Linked DNA regions of Homo sapiens: region 2 is linked to region 1. Evidence: fine-mapped expression QTL. Tissue or cell type: fibroblasts. Region 1 holds a variant in brackets; the other region holds the start of a gene. All regions are shown on one strand. Distances are from middle to middle.

Evidence for each region. PIP is the estimated chance that this variant, and not a neighbour inherited with it, causes the effect.
Region 2: PTPRK starts here. The variant in region 1 is fine-mapped to the expression of PTPRK in fibroblasts (GTEx, PIP 0.91).

The regions. Positions count from the first base shown.
Region 1 is chr6:128,651,776-128,660,815 of GRCh38, forward strand. All of the region lies in intron 1 of LOC105377998 (a long non-coding RNA gene), which reads left to right. Among named protein-coding and RNA genes, the nearest start is that of PTPRK, 140 kb to the left of the region's middle. RefSeq lists an enhancer at 3,761-4,960. The variant A/T (reference allele first, on the strand shown) is at 4,482.
Region 2 is chr6:128,515,878-128,522,897 of GRCh38, forward strand. PTPRK (protein tyrosine phosphatase receptor type K) reads right to left here and starts at 4,722. Exons shown (of 30, transcript NM_002844.4): 1 at 4,382-4,722. The coding sequence starts at 4,481. RefSeq lists enhancers at 3,896-4,489, 4,490-5,084.

The DNA of each region.
Region 1 (9,040 bases):
AAGAATAACAGAGAGAGGAACCACTCCCATTCCCACTTCTTGGCTCCTTTATCCATGTCTTCTGGCCATGGGAAAAGATAGTGTCATGTTGTCATATTGTTTGCTAGTTCAGAACATATATGAAATCTTTCAGGACAGCACATAGCCAAACAAGGTATTATTACTTAGCCAGCACCCAAAATGAGTTTTTAATAGGGCATTCCACTGTTATGTCAGGCAGGCCAACTTGAGGTGATGTGGTACACTGTAAGACCAATAAATTCTACAGATGTGAACATTTCCCTCATTCTTTGCTGGTCAATGTGTTCTTTGGCCAGGAGCAAAGTTATATGGGCATCATTAAAGAGAATCAGGCTTTCCATTAGCCTGTGGATACTGGTACTTTACAAAGGCAGAGCAGACAGGGATGGCACATTCATATCTACTGTGTTTATTCTGGTAAAACATGCTGTTCTTTCTTCCATGATGGAGGTAGTCAACATGGCTAGCAGATCCCCTCAAGAATAGTGCCACAGAAGGAAATCAGCATCAAACTCAGCTGACAACATACTATGTTTTTAGCAACTGTGATAGCTAGAATAGTCTTATTGAAGAGAAGACCCTGCTTTTGAGCCCATGCATAGTCTCTATCACTGACACTTTGACCATTTTATTTATGAGCCCATTGGTCAAGCTCAAATGGCTGGGAAGAGGGTGGCTAATATTCACAGAAAGCGTTATCTCGACTTTATTATTCGAAAAATGCCTTGCAGTTGAAGCCTGTTTGTGAGCAATTACTTGGGGCACAAAAAATTTCAAACTCTTACCATTCCCAGAGGTTTACCATTTCTTACTCAGACCTTTGTGTTATCAATCCCTTATTTTATTTTCTTCAAAATCCGGAGAAATGAGAAAACCACTTTCCATTGTCCAGTGTAGATATGGCATCTCTTTCCAAAAAAGAAAAAAAAAATTGAATGCAGTTCTGCCCACTAGAAAGATTTCCTTTTTCCCCAATCCTTAACGGCCATTACATAGTGGGACTGAAATGCTACATGGTACAAGACTATTGTGTGGACATATCTACAAACCAGGACTGATTTGTTTTACCTCAGTCACTTGATGATGAACTCCCCCTGAGGTCCCAAATGTGGTGTGTGGTATAGTTGTCAATGCAAGCTTTTGATGCCAAAAGTTCAAATTTTGCCATCAGTTCAAATTCTACCCCATATCTCATGTTTCTACTCTGGCTGGTGTGAAGGGCAACTTATGCCAAACTTATGTGAGCTTGCTGAATTTTTCTCTATAGCACAACACACCTGTGCTTTCAGGACTAATTGAGCTCAGTTGCACATACGCCACTTCAGTTTGATAATGGAATGCTGCTATACACTCTTTAAAAAATTAAATCAATGTTATTGAGATTTAATTTACATACCAAAATGCATTCATTTTAAGTGCAGAATTTGATGAGCTTTGGCAAATGTTCTCCCTGTATGACCTTCACGAAACCGAATATATAGAATATTTCCTTCATTCAAAAATTACCCAGTGCCTTTTTGCAGTCAGTACCTGCACTTATTCCTGCCCCAAACAAACACTGATCTGATTTTTATCACTATAGATTGGTTTTGCCTATTCTGGATTTTTACATAAGTGGAATCATACAGTGTATAGTCTTTTATGCCTGGTTTTATTTCACTATATAAAGATTCTGAGATTCATCCATGCTGTTGCGTATATCAGTAGTTGGTTCTGTTTCACTGCTGAGTAGTATCCCATTGTTTGAATATATCACAATTTGTTTACCCATCACTGTGTTGGATATACTTGTACAAGTTCTTTTTTTTTAAATCTTTTTTTTTATTATTTATACTTTAAGTTTTAGGGTACATGTGCACAATGTGCAGGTTAGTTACATATGTATACATGTGCCATGCTGGTGCGCTACACCGACTAACTCGTCATCTAGCATTTGGTATATCTCCCAACGCTATCCCTCCCCTCCCCCAACCCCACAACAGTCCCCAGAGTGTGATGTTCCCCTTCCTGTGTCCATGTGTTCTCATTGTTCAATTCCCACCTGTGAGTGAGAATATGTGGTGTTTGGTTTTTTGTTCTTGCGATAGTTTACTGAGAATGATGATTTCCAATTTCATCCATGTCCCTACAAAGGACATGAACTCATCATTTTTTATGGCTGCATAGTATTCCATGGTGTATATGTGCCACATTTTCTTAATCCGGTCTATCATTGTTGGACATTTGGGTTGGTTCCAAGTCTTTGCTATTGTGAATAGTACCGCAATAAACATATGTGTGCATGTGTCTTTATAGCAGCATGATTTATAGTCCTTTGGGTATATACCCAGTAATGGGATGGGTGGGTCAAATGGTATTTCTAGTTCTAGATCCCTCAGGAATCGCCACACTGACTTCCACAATAGTTGAACTAGTTTACAGTCCCACCAACAGTGTAAAAGTGTTCCTATTTCTCCACATCCTCTCCAGCACCTGTTGTTTCCTGACTTTTTAATGATTGCCATTCTAACTGGTGTGAGATGATATCTCATTGTGGTTTTGATTTGCATTTCTCTGATGGCCAGTGATGGTGAGCATTTTTTTCATGTGTTTTTGGCTGCATAAATGTCTTCTTCTTTCTGTAAACAAGTATTACTAATTTTCTTGGGTAAATAAGAATTAAATGACTGGTTTGAATGTTCTGTTCATGTTTCGCTTTACAAGGGACTCACAAAATGTTTTCCAAATGATGGTTGATTATTCCCACCAACATTATAGTAGAGTTCTAATTGCTCCACATTTTTGCCAGTATTTTGTATTGTCAGACTTTTAACTTTAGCAATTTCTAACGGGCATTTGGTGGACTTAATTTTGATTTTTCTGTTGATTAATGATGTTTCATATGCCCATTAGCAATTTATATATCTTTCTATGTGATGCATCAGTTCAACTCTCTGTCCATTTAAAATTTGATTGTTTTTCTTATTATTTAGTTGTAAGAGGTCTTTATATATTCTGGAAACTAATCCTTTGTCAGAAATTTGTACTGTAAATGTTTACTCCCAGACTTTATCTTGCCTTTTTATTTTTGTCAAAGTGTCTTTCAAAGGGCAGTCATTTTTAATCTTGATGGAGTACAAGCATCAGTTTTTCTTTTACGTTCATGCTTTCTACATAGTATGTAAAAATAACACAAAAAACAATATAAACAGTATAGCAAGGTCACAAATATTTTCTACTATATTTTATTCTAGAAGTTTTACAGTTTTAACTTTCACACTTAGGGCTATGATTTAAGTTAATTTTTATGTATGATTTGAATTAAGCATTAAAGCTTATTTTTACTTTGCTATTTTTATCTCTGGTTTGAGTTAGGTCTTCTTCATATCATCCATGTTTCTATTTAAAATGCTTAATATTTCCTCTATTAAGCTTAACTATCCTAACTTAACTTAACTATCCTAACTTAACTTAACTATCCTAAATATTTAGGCAGCCAACATTGGGCCACATAAAACAAATTCTTAGAGACCTATAAAGAGACTTAGATAACCACACAATAATTGTGGGAGACTTAACACCTTACTGACAGTGTTAGACACATCATTAAGGCAGAAAACTAACATAGATATCTGGGACCTATTGGTTCTTGAACACCTGGATAGAGTTGTAATAACTGTTTTAATGTCTTTGTTTATATGTTCTATCATCTTCATAATTTCTGGGTCAGTTTTGATTTAATTTTTTCTCTTCGTTATGAGTCTTATTTTCCTGCTTTTTTATGTTTGTATGGCAGACTTTGTGAAATTTACCTCATTGAGTGATGGATATTTTTGTATTACTATAAATGTTGTTGAGCTTTGTTCTGGGACATAGTTAAGTTACTCGGAAACAGATGGGTTCTTTCAGGTCTTGAATTTAATCTTTGTTAGGTGGGATTAGAGCAGCTAATTTTGTCACGCTACTGAAGAAAAGCCATTATGCATATACTACTCAATGCCCCATTTTCCACTCTGACTAGTGGGTAGAGAAACTATTCTTGGCCCTGTGAAAACTCTGTAAATTTTCTCCTCTAATCCTTTTGGGTTGTTCTTTTTCCATCCTCAGAGAGTTTCCTCACAGAAATACCCTGATTAATACTCAGCCAAAGCCTTGAGGGAAGGGAGATCCTGTGAAGATTTCTGAATCTCTGTGTAACTTTCCCCTCTGGTACTCTGACCAGCAAAATGTAGCTTTCTCCAAAGAGACCTGAGCAGTTTGTCAGGGATTAGAGTATACTGGCTCCTGAGTGGTGTTAGCCAGGGAAATGAAATGTTTTGTGGTGATGTCAATCAATTTTAAGGCATCATTTCCTCATTGTCAGACATATCTCTCACATAGGCAAGGAAGCTCATGTCAGCTGACTAGACATCCTCTCTCCAGGACAATGGTGGAGATTCCCTGTGAATCTAGCCCTCTTGGTCTCCGTTTCCTTTTGTTGC[A/T]TGCCAACATACCCCTGCTTGATAAACCCTCTTTCTTTTGTGGTAAGTTTGTAGCTCTCTCAGTCCCAGTGACATTACAATCTTTGCTAATTAGTCATCTCACTTGGGGTTTCCAAAACTCTTTATTCACAAATACTGATAGTCCTATGAGTCATTCTTATATATGAGTAATTCAGTAATTTTGTGTTGATTTTTACCAGTTTTATCTCAAAGATCAATTTCATTGTAAATGTTGTGACTATAATTACTGTGAATTAAGAATTTTTGAACATATTCCTATTTAAAAAAAAATCTTTGCTAGGACCATCTATCTTATTTGTATGAGCTCCTTTATAATCTAGATTTTTGGGTATTATTTATTTGTTAATATCTTCTAGTTTGACCTTGCCCTTATTTTGGTTCTATTTCATTGTCCATAGAATTAAAATAATTTTTTTTGTGGTGGATTGGTCGGTGAGGGGAGGCAGTGGCAGACAGGGTCTTGCTCTTTTGCCCAGGGTGGAGTGCAGTGGCTCAATCATAGCTTTGTAACATCAAACTCCTGGGACTCCATACATGCACTATGACTGGCTAATTAAAAAAATTATTTTGTAGCAGTGGAATCTTGCTATGTTGCCCAGGCTGGAACAGAATTAAAATTCTAATATAGTAAAAAGTATAAAATCTTTACATTTATTGTTTCTTCTCTTTAATGTATACGAATGAATTAATATTTAATCTAGAGACCTGAAAAGCATTAAATTCCATTTTCTGGTAGATTTTTGAATATATATTTTATTTTTGTAGACATATTAGAGTGTTGTTCCGTCTCTCATATTTTTCTCCTTCCTGACTACTCCTCTCATCACTTGGCTAATCCATAGCAGCATGGGGGTGGGTCCATAATAGCCCTGTTGGCACAATCTGATTCTTCCTCTTTGATGATGGTTTATTTTAATCCAGTGACCATCTGAATCAAGATGGCCTAATTAGCATTATTTTCCTGGGACTTTAAATCTGGGCTGTAAAATTTAAATTGAAAACAAGGAGAGTCACTTGAATGAATAAGATGTAATCTTAGGACACTGTAGAAGAGATATCTTAGTTATGATATCACTGGGGTGTTCAGAGAAAGAGGTGAATAAATGAACTTAATGCTCAGTAAGAAGCAGAAGTGAGAGGAGGAAGGGAATTTCCTGGGATTTTTATGTCTTCTGCTTCCTAGTTCCAGTGTTTCTCTAAAACCAGCCTGCATTTCTGTTCTTGGTCATTAATAAAATGTACTTATATCTTTATAATAAATTCTCTCTTTCACTTACTTTAGCTAAATTTAGTTTATAGTACTTCTAATTCAGGAGTTTTAACTAATAAAGAATTCAAGTTTTTTCCCTTTTTTGTAATAAGTTTGGTGTAAGCTGTCAGATGGAGTATCCAACATTCACCCTAAGAGTAGGAACTAGATAAATTATATACCACCTTCTGGGCAGCATATGAAGGCAGTTCACAAAAGAAAGAGGCTGAGGTCAAGGCAGAAGCTAGTTTTGTATATTACTACCAGATCTTATAATTTCTAAGACAAAAGAAATTAAGCTTGAGCTAGGTTAGAAAACCGTGGGAGAGACTGGTTAAGTATCAATACCTAGCCTGGAGAAGGGGCAGACACAAAATGGAAGAGTAATAAGAGAAGACTGGAAATAACACTTAGTTAAACTAGATAATCCATACAGAATCAATCTAGAAAGAGTCTCATGATTAATAAGTTTAGTTAATCCTTTATTTTTTTCATTTAGAAGCTATATAGGCATAGGGTACTGGACAAAACCGGCATATACAGCAGAAACCAAGGCAAACACAGCCCTTCCATTATGGAGCTCACATTCTTGTGGGATGGAGAAGGAAGGTATTAAATAATTAAGTATACATTTATTCATTCATTATTACTGTAATGAGTACTGTTAAGGAGAACCATTAAAGTTTAAGCTGAAGGAACTTGACCAGGTCTGGGTGACAAGGAATGATTCTTTAAGAAAGTGAAATAAAGTATCTTTGCATATATTTTCTAGGCCAGATGTTTAAAATAGTAGACTTGTTCCAGTGGGCATGTGGATTTTTTTTTAAAATCACTTTATAATTACTTGTAACAAAAACTGGTAGAAATGCAAAAGTGTATGGATTTAAATTTCTGTGTTCTTTTTTTTATGCCTTTGACATTAATTTTCTTCTTGAAATAAGTGTTAGTCATGTGACTTAAAATGCAGAAAATGATACACATTGTCTAGCTTTGTCAGAGGGATGCAGTGAGTGCAAAGAATTATCTTGCCTAAGAAATCTAACATCCTAAATGGAAAGGCTTCAAATATCAAATAAACCCGATGCTACTTTATTTGATACCTCCTTACACCATTTCATTTAGGCTTTTCTTTTTTCTGCTTCCTAACTCACATGCTCAGACTTCTCGAAACCTTCAGGCACTGGGAAGGAAAAGAGAACAAGGAAACTAGAAGATTTTAAGCATGAGCTATGCACCAGGTCCAATAGGAGGTGCTTGGCCATTTTGGGCTGCATCTTTAGCATTAGAAATCCATTCTTTTCCTCAATGATCTCTTTATGTAATTCTCCAACAGAACAGAGCTTTCTCACCAAGGCCAGGGACGTTTGGAGTTATTGTGTGGATTTCAGGGGGTCAGTAAAAACTTGGAAAATATATATATTATATATTTCTACATTTCTATAATTTACAATCATATTTAATTGTTCTTATAAACTTTTATTTGTAAAAAATATGTTTAGCTTAATGAACAAGACACATAGAGTTAGTTTATTTTGTTATTACTTGCTATTACTGTACTATTTAGAAAAGGAGCTTGTAAATGTCAATTTCTTTTCCTATTATGCATAGTTTTAAAATGTTAAGGTTAGTAGAGTAAATAATATTGTTTAACTACTCAGTATGTTGTAGGCAGAATAATGGCTGACAAAGATATCTACCTCCTTATCTCTGAATCTGTGAAGATGTTGTCTTGGCATAACCTCATGGCAAGGGGGTGTGAGGTTGCAGGTGGAATTAAGGTTGCTGATCAATTGACCTCAGAATAAGAATATTTTCCTGTATTATTGAGATGGGTGTAATGTAAACACAAAGGCCCTTAAATATAGAAGAGGAAGGCAGAAGGACTGGAGTCAGAGTTATTCAATGTGAGAAAGACTTGCCAGTCTGTCGCTGGCTTTGAAGATGTTGATGTTAGGAGACCACAAACAGGTGTTCTCTAGCAGCAAACAAAGGCAAGAAAACATTCTCCCCTGAAGCTTTGAGGAAAGTATACAGAAAACACCTTGATTTTAGTCTAGCAGGACCTATTTTGAACTTCTTATCTCTGGAATTATAAGGTAACAAATCTGTTTTGTTTTAAGCCACTGAATTTGAAGTGGCAACAAGAAACTTACTAATACTATCAGGTAGGAACATTAGATTACTTTTATTGTCCACACATTGTGGGCCAAGTAAATAATTAAGTACTTTACACACATGTATTTTTAGTTCTATCTGACTGCAGAATATACAGTCTTAACCATTGTGCTATACAACCTCTTTTTTAAATTAATAATTCAATGAATGATTGAAATACGGAACATCAAGTCTGTGCTCATTTGGAGCACATACGAAGTACTCAGCAAATGCTTATAAATGCTTATCTGAAGAGTGGCTTTTTGGCCCATAGGAATATTCAGCAAGCCAGAGTTATTCTACCTCCCTGGATAGAGGCGTCATGGCTGGAGCAACTTTGAGCTTAGCACATTCTATCTGAGCTGTTCATTACATTCATCATTTAAGATATACTCAAGCCTTTGAGAGTTTGTTTCTTACAATTCTGAAAATATGAAGATATATGAACCTCCTAGTACACCCTGGTGAATCATCTTAATCAGGGTGTTTCCCTCAAGGTATTCCAAACAGACATTTTTTATAATATGAGAAAGTGAAAGCATATTGAACCTAAGGCCAAGTTATAGATTCCCTAAAAGTAAGCATCATATAAAACAACCGATCCATTTTTTCTTCAACTTTCCAAACTTGTTTTTATCCATTTGCTTGAAATGTTTTCTCTCTTGCTCTATAAGTATGTTTTGTGTAGTGCCTGATTCTCCCTATGGTATTTGCTTTCCATTAACTTCCTATTGATTTTCAGTTGTGTGTACACAGTACTGCAGGAACATAAACTGCAAACACCAGACTTAAAGAAGTCCGAACTCTAACTGTTTTATCTTGGTGACACAGTACTACAACGTGAATATTACCTGTGGCCTCTTTTAAAAAATGTATTTAAAGGCAGTTGTGACAAGTAGGGTCAAGTCTGAATAATGATGTATATAAATTACAGTGGAAAAATATTTGGCGTCTCAGGATGAAGGATGTTCAAGTTGAAAGGGCAGGTTGGAACAGATAAAGAGCAGTTTTTGAAAATATGGCATTACAGAAGGTGAAGCAAAGTATAAGTCACTGTAAAAAGAAAGGTACCAAAAGATGACAAAAGTGAGGAGGAGTGGGAAGGAAGTAACACACAGCAAGTTGATATGACACT
Region 2 (7,020 bases), 140 kb before region 1:
AATACCAGTTTGAGTAGACCTGGTATACTGCACTTTAAAAATATTAGTAGCCAACACACTTTTTCTATATGGAATCTTATCACATGAATTAAATATTACCTTAAAGGCCAGAAAAACCTGTAACAAACCATCATTGCTAGAAATATGAGATTTGGTGGGAATGTTGGCATTAGCTTTGGTTAGTGGATGAGTCATATTTCCAGTTCTTAAGGACATGTACAGCACTAAAATATATTTGGCAAAAACAAAAGGGCTGTGATCTTGTGTATATATATGTGGGGCTCTGTTTTTGCTAGAAAAGAGTAGGAGGGAGTGTGGGAGGGGGCAGAGTGGCAGAGGGGTTGATTTATTTTTGAAATTCACTTTTATGAGCACAAAGAGAAGAGCTGTCAGCAGCACACATGCCAATGTCCAAACAGCAGCCAGACTCTCCTCTTTCCGTCTGGGTAGGCCAGACACAAAACTACATCTCACGACCTAGGAAAATCAAGAGTCAGATGCAAGAGAACTAGAGAGAGAAAAAAAAACAGTCCTGGAAATGTCCAGCTACATATGATTGCTAGTGATTAGAACGTGGAGTTTTAATGAATTGAGGGATCGAGGGATATTTAGCCAATCAAAACCAAAAAAAACTAACAGGCAAACCTTAAAGCAAGCTGGCTCCAAAGTATCTTCCTAGCAGGTAATAAGTATAAGAGAAATTAATCTCACCTAAAGAGACAACAAGGAGTCAGATACTGCTCAGGTGCTGCTTAGATGAGTTACAGCATTCTAAGTGCACATCAACAGGGTGACATGTCAGGAACTATAGACAAAGCAGGATCTCGAGCTGTATTTCCAGGCTCCTATCATACAAGAGAGACAATAGTCCCTCTCTAGGTCATTGATAAGACTGCATCTAGAAAGCTACATATTATTCTCAACACAGAGTTGAAAACCTGAACCAACAGTTAAACAAACAGCTAAAGAAACTGACTAAAAATATTTTTTTCTGTAGTTAGAAATGCCAGGAATGTTAATAGTGACTCTTCCATGGGTCTAACTCAAGTAAGGATTTATACGAGGTAAGTTAAAAAAATTAAGGATAATCGATCATTGTGCTGACAAAATTATGGTCTGGCCAATCTAGTATGTTTATGTTTAACAATAACTATGTTAAACAATAATTAAATGAATGACTGGCTGAGTGAAAACACACACACACATGCACACACACACGTGCGCACACACACACTCACACACAAATCCTGAACAGCCTGCACTTACTGGAGAGAGAATTTGGAAGGAGTAAAAAGCTGAGACTAAGGCACTTAATGATGATTACACCCCAGATAGCTGCACAGTGCTTTACAATTTACAGTGCTAGTTCCCATAAATTACTTCATTTAATCATAAAAAACATGTGGAAAGGTCAAGTTGGGTATTATTATCCCCATTTTACAGAGGAGAAAGCTGAGTTTCCAAGTCACCTTACCTGCATCTGGTTTCGTCAGTCATCTAAGTCCTTCTACAGAAAACTTTCTTACATTATATCAAGAGATCACAGCTATACAACCCAGTGAATAAACTTTAATACTTCTTTATTCTTCTATGCCTCGGTTTCCTCAGATATGACATGGGTGTCATTTTAAGTGAGAGGTGAAACTGAAAGAATGTATGAGTTGGGATTTACAGAACGTTCTGGTTTTAAAGAGGCTCACAGTGCAGCAGTTTTACACTTTAACTGCAAAAGCTAAGAAAAAAGTCACAATAATGAAAACACTCTTACATTTTTGGTTTAAACAAAGAAAACTGAATAAGTATATGACACATCAAAGTCCCAACAATGCTCAGCCTTTCAAAATTTGCTTTTGAAGCTTACTACATTAGGAACCACATGATATCGGAAAGTAAACTGATCTTAATGAGTATGATTTGAAAGACATACTTCAGATATTTTTAAATTCTCAACATGAATTTGTCTTGGACTTTTAAAGTGGGTTTATTTAAATTTCTCAAAAGGAATAAAAGTTCACTAGTTAAAGTAAAATATAAGAAAAACCAGCAATATGGAATACACCTCCAATCTTCAATACATCTCTAATCTATGTCTGCAACAAATCTGACTGCCATAGAATTTTATGACAATAAAATATCAAATGATTTATGGTAGCCAGAAAAAAAAGGAAGTATTTACAAAACAAACTTATAATTTGTGGAGAAAGGCAAATCCACAATCTGACTTTAAACTCTGGGAATAAAAGACATTCATTTCTGGGCATACATTCCTAAAGGGCAAAATCTTGAGATGCAATCCTGTGATTACTGTACTTTTTAGGAATGCACATTATATTAATTAAATATACAACATCATGTCAAATGTTATGCTTTGTCACTAAAGAAAAGCCAGGCATATTTAGTTAAAGTACTTAGAACTAGATATCTAAGAACACAATTGTTTATTGTACGTATCTAAACTCCAGGTATCAGAAAAGCTCATTTTCACATTCAGCTGGAGGAAAAGTAGTATTTATTTGTTAATTAAAGGGTAAATAACATTTAAAAAGAGAAAAAGTTTTCTAACTGCTGAAAATATATCCATCGCTGTTGAGACATTAATAGTTGCAACTCTTGAATACATGTAAGTTTAATTATGCAACTGGTAGAGTTCAAACTTTCAATTAACAAACTACAAGCCTTTTCAAGCGTAGGCTCTCCGTGCAGTGACAAACACTGTGCAGAAATCAATACTCACTCCAACTTGCCTGCATATAATGAGTTACATCAAGCACGGTTTCAATGCTAACGGGCATTATATGTCAGAAATGCATGCAGTAATGCTTACTCCAGAAAGAATTCAATTAAACCATTGGATTATTTTTTGCATAGAGCTGTTACCCTCTGCGTACATCAATTATATACAGGGCTTTTCCTCTGCGTGCTGCCATTTCATAATCTCTGCCTGAATGTACGACACATGCTGCCACCTGAATCTGTTGTTTAACTCCCTTTACAGAGTTCTAAATGGGGCGGGGGTAGGAGAGCAATGGAAGGGAAATAAACGATTACTCCAGAAAACAACAATTTGAGTTTATTTCCAGGAAACAGGGCCTCCACAACAACGTGAGAAACTGTCAGGTACAAAGTAAGTTATTTGCGTCCTGCGGCTTCAGCCAGGAGCGTGGCTGTCGCTTTTCCCGTCTTCTCCATCACCCTCTGGCCACCACTGCGTCTCCATCTGCACCGCGAACCCCAGCAGCAGATGCGCTCGCCAGCCAAGCGAAGCTGGGTAGGTTGGCCAGAAAAGTTGTCAGGACTGGCGGGAGGTAGACAAGTGCTCGGGAGCCCGCTCCCCAGCGTCCACCTGGTGAAACTTCAGAGCCCCCAGAGGAGAGAACGAAAGAAGCAACCAACCTACACGAAGGATAACAAAACTGGAGGGGAACAGAGGGCGGGACCGGGAGAGCCAGGGTTCACGGACTTCTCTGAGCGGCTTGACCGAGAACCCCCAGGGCTACAGCGAGACGCTCCACTTGTCTCCTTTTGGGTTCTCCGGCAGAAGGCAGACATTTACAGTCCGCTTCCAGCCCCAGGCCGGATCCGGGGAGCGCGGGGCCAGAGCCCCAGGCCGGATCCGGGGAGCGCGGGGCCAGCCTGGCGGTGGTTTTGCCCGAGGAGCGGGCTCCCACGCGCGAGTCAGGCTTCCTCCACCAGGCGCCCAGACCTCGATGCCCATGAACGCTCAGAGTGGGTCCTTAGAACCGCATTTCAACACATCTTACAGGGCTCCGCCAACACACACACAGAACATGCTCCAAGCAGTGCCCGAGCGCACAGGGCAAGCCCGGGAGCAACCCAGAGCTGGGGGAGGAGAAAAGGGGACTCCGGGAGGGACGGGGAAGTAGTTAGACAATAGTCAGGGGAGGTTATTCCCGGGACAAAAAGCACCTGGCAAAGCGCGCCGAGGTCAGTCCCTTCGAATCTCCACATTTCTGACAATGGCTTCCCAGGGAATTTGTTTAAACACCCAAGTGGCAGACAGCAACAAACCCGCACCACAAGCAACAGAGTGCCGTCACGGGAGTCGTAACTACTTTTTCTTTCTCTCTTCCCCACTAGCCCGGCGCAGGCCACGCGAGACGCCGAAGCCAGCAGGTCCCCACACTCTCCGGCTAGACCGTGCCAGCCTGAGCCCCGAGCAAGCTTCGGAGAGGAACAATGGGTGCCCCGCGTCCCACCTGGCACGAACTCTGGGGACAGCCCTCCCTCTACCCTGTGTTCCCCACCCCCGGACAGAGAGAGCTCCCCACGATCCTTGTCCCCAGCCCTAGCGGGGACCTGGCTCACCCCTCGTGAGCCCAGGACTCCAGGCGTTCGTCGGGGACGCCCCCCGGCCACTCACCTGCGGAGAACTGGCCTTGGGCCGATCCCAGGAGAGGCCAAGGAGAGAGGAGCAAGAGCGCCACAAAAGCAGGCAGCGCCGCCGCCGCAGTCGTATCCATGCCGAGTTTGGGAGAAGTTTCAAGCAGCTTTGCAAAGAGCTGCCGGGGGGATCGCCGCGAAATCCACGACGGAGGAGCGGGCCGGGCCTCGCGGGGTGAGGACGGTGAGAGGACAGCCGCCCGCCCGCCCTTTTTCCTTCTTCGCGGTCGCCAAACTACCTCAGGGGCGAAAGCGTCGCCAGCGTCGCCGGCCGGCCGCGGCGGCAGCTCTCCATGCTCGGCGGAGGCTGCTCCTGTTAGTCAAGAGTTACTTTGCTCGGGGAGGGACGGGGGCGGAGCCGGGGGTGACGTCGCCCCGCGGGCTCCGGGCGCTTCTGAGGAATGCGGGCTCGGGCGCGGCGCCGCCACCGCCTCCTGCCGGAGAGACGCGCGCCAGCCCCGGCCGCGCGCCCCGCGCCGCCTTTGTTCGCAGCCTGGGCCCCGCCGCCAGCCGCTGCTCGGAGGGAGCGAGCGAGAAAGGGGAGCCGGCGCAGCTCGCTGCCCTGTTCCAGAACTCAGAATTTGAGAGGCGAGAGTTCGGTAAGCCGTGCGACCAGACGACCGAGGACGCGCGCAGAGAAACCCCCGCCGTCCGAGGAGAGGCGTCCTGGGGTTCCGTCCCAAGGTGGAGGTCCCCCCGAGCGGTTGCTGATTGAAAGGGGAGTGTGGAAGCGCCCTGAGGAAACACCCGCCTGCCTTGAAAACTCCCCGTTCCTTATTCTTGTAATAAGGAATAAGACACCCCACCCCCATCGAAAACTTGTCCCTTATTCATAGAATAAATAAAACTTGAACCAGAATAAACGATCAGTAACTTTCCAGCGTGAACAGCTGGCGTGTCTCCTTTCTGGTTTATTTGTCATTGGCCAAGTATTTGGATTTACTCTGCTTCACTGACTTTGCTTGTTGCTCTGAAACCCTCCGGCCCCTTTCCAGTTCTCACCTAAGAACTGCATCAGGGCTTATTATCCCTTCCTTGCACCTAGGTCTGGTGTGTGTGTGGTTTTGTTTTTTTTAATATCTAGTAGGTAGTTAAGACATAAGTATTTAACAAAAGGACTTTTACACTGACCATGAAAACAGCTTCTTCGGAATGATTCATCTGGCAGAAAATAATGCTATATTATGACAGTAAAATATTTCACAGTTAACTACTTCAGCAGCTTGAAGTGGTTTCGCCATATGCCACCCTGCCTTACTTCTGTGGTAAGACTGTATGGTGCATACTTTATTCATTTTTGTAAAATGTCACAAAAAATAGGTATGGTCACAATTGAATAACATAATAACTTTGATTCAGAATTTTTATGTGTTATGTACAATTGCTAAAACAATAGTCTGTTGATTGACATCTCTCAGTTTCTCAGACATCTTAGCCTTTGTAAATCAAGACAATGTGAAATTCATTTTAATATAACATTCACATAATTTACCAAGCCACATATTCTTTTAATCAAATATATGCTATTAATGACCAGACTTATGACAGAGCCTGTGGAAACAAAAATGTAATAAATATACACACAAATATATACATATATAAATACATATTATACACACATACATATCAGGCAGAAAAGACTTTTAAAAATTCTATGAGAATAGTAGCCTGCTCATTAGCACACTGACTAGCTCAACCCTTGTCAATTCAGTTCAGCATAGTTAAGTTCATCCTTCCTTAGGGTGCAATGTAGATTTTTTTTTTTTAACTCATTAACCTATACCTTTCAACACACCATCACCATTCCATTTCTTTAATTAGAGAACATTCCTAGATCCCAGGTAACAAAAAACTGAGGGACATATTTTTCTTTTTGAGGACAGCAGAACTTCCTAAAATTTAGCAGCAATTTTTCCCAGTAAAAACAAACAAAACCCTACTGTCTGTATACTAATTCATCTGTTCTACTCTTGTAAGAAATGTAAAAGAAGTTCATGACGTGGTAATTTGTTTGTTTAAACACACAAACAAAAAACTTCTTTAAATATTTTCACACAGTGCCAGGACAAAGTGCACACAATTCTTACCTTGCCCATTTTGGGGGACAGCTGATAGAAGATTCATTTCATGAAACTTTATTAATTTCTCTATCATGGAAGTAATAATAATAGCAGGTAATGTTTAGAAAGTTCTTCAAATGTTCTAGGCACTGTCTTAGAGTATACAATGTCACACTGAGACATCAAGATTTTCAGTGTTTCATTGAGTTCAGTCAACAATTCCGTGAAGACTTTGGTACAATTATTCCCATTTGACAAATAAGAAAACAAGGTTATAGATTAAGTAACTTACCCAAAGACACATACTTAAGTGAGAAGTGGGGGAGGCGATGCAAAGAGAAGAAAGGAAATTCTCAAAAGAAATCAGCAAACCAACACAGATGGTTTCTCACTAAAAATCAAAAGCATGCAATAAAACTTTTAGGTAAGTACATTATTCCTTTTGTGCATAACTAATGCGACCAGTATGGATTGAAATCACTTGAGTAGAAATCTGGTGGGTCTTCTACATAGCTAAGTGCGTGGCAAATATTAGGAATTAGTAGATTTTTGTTTGTTT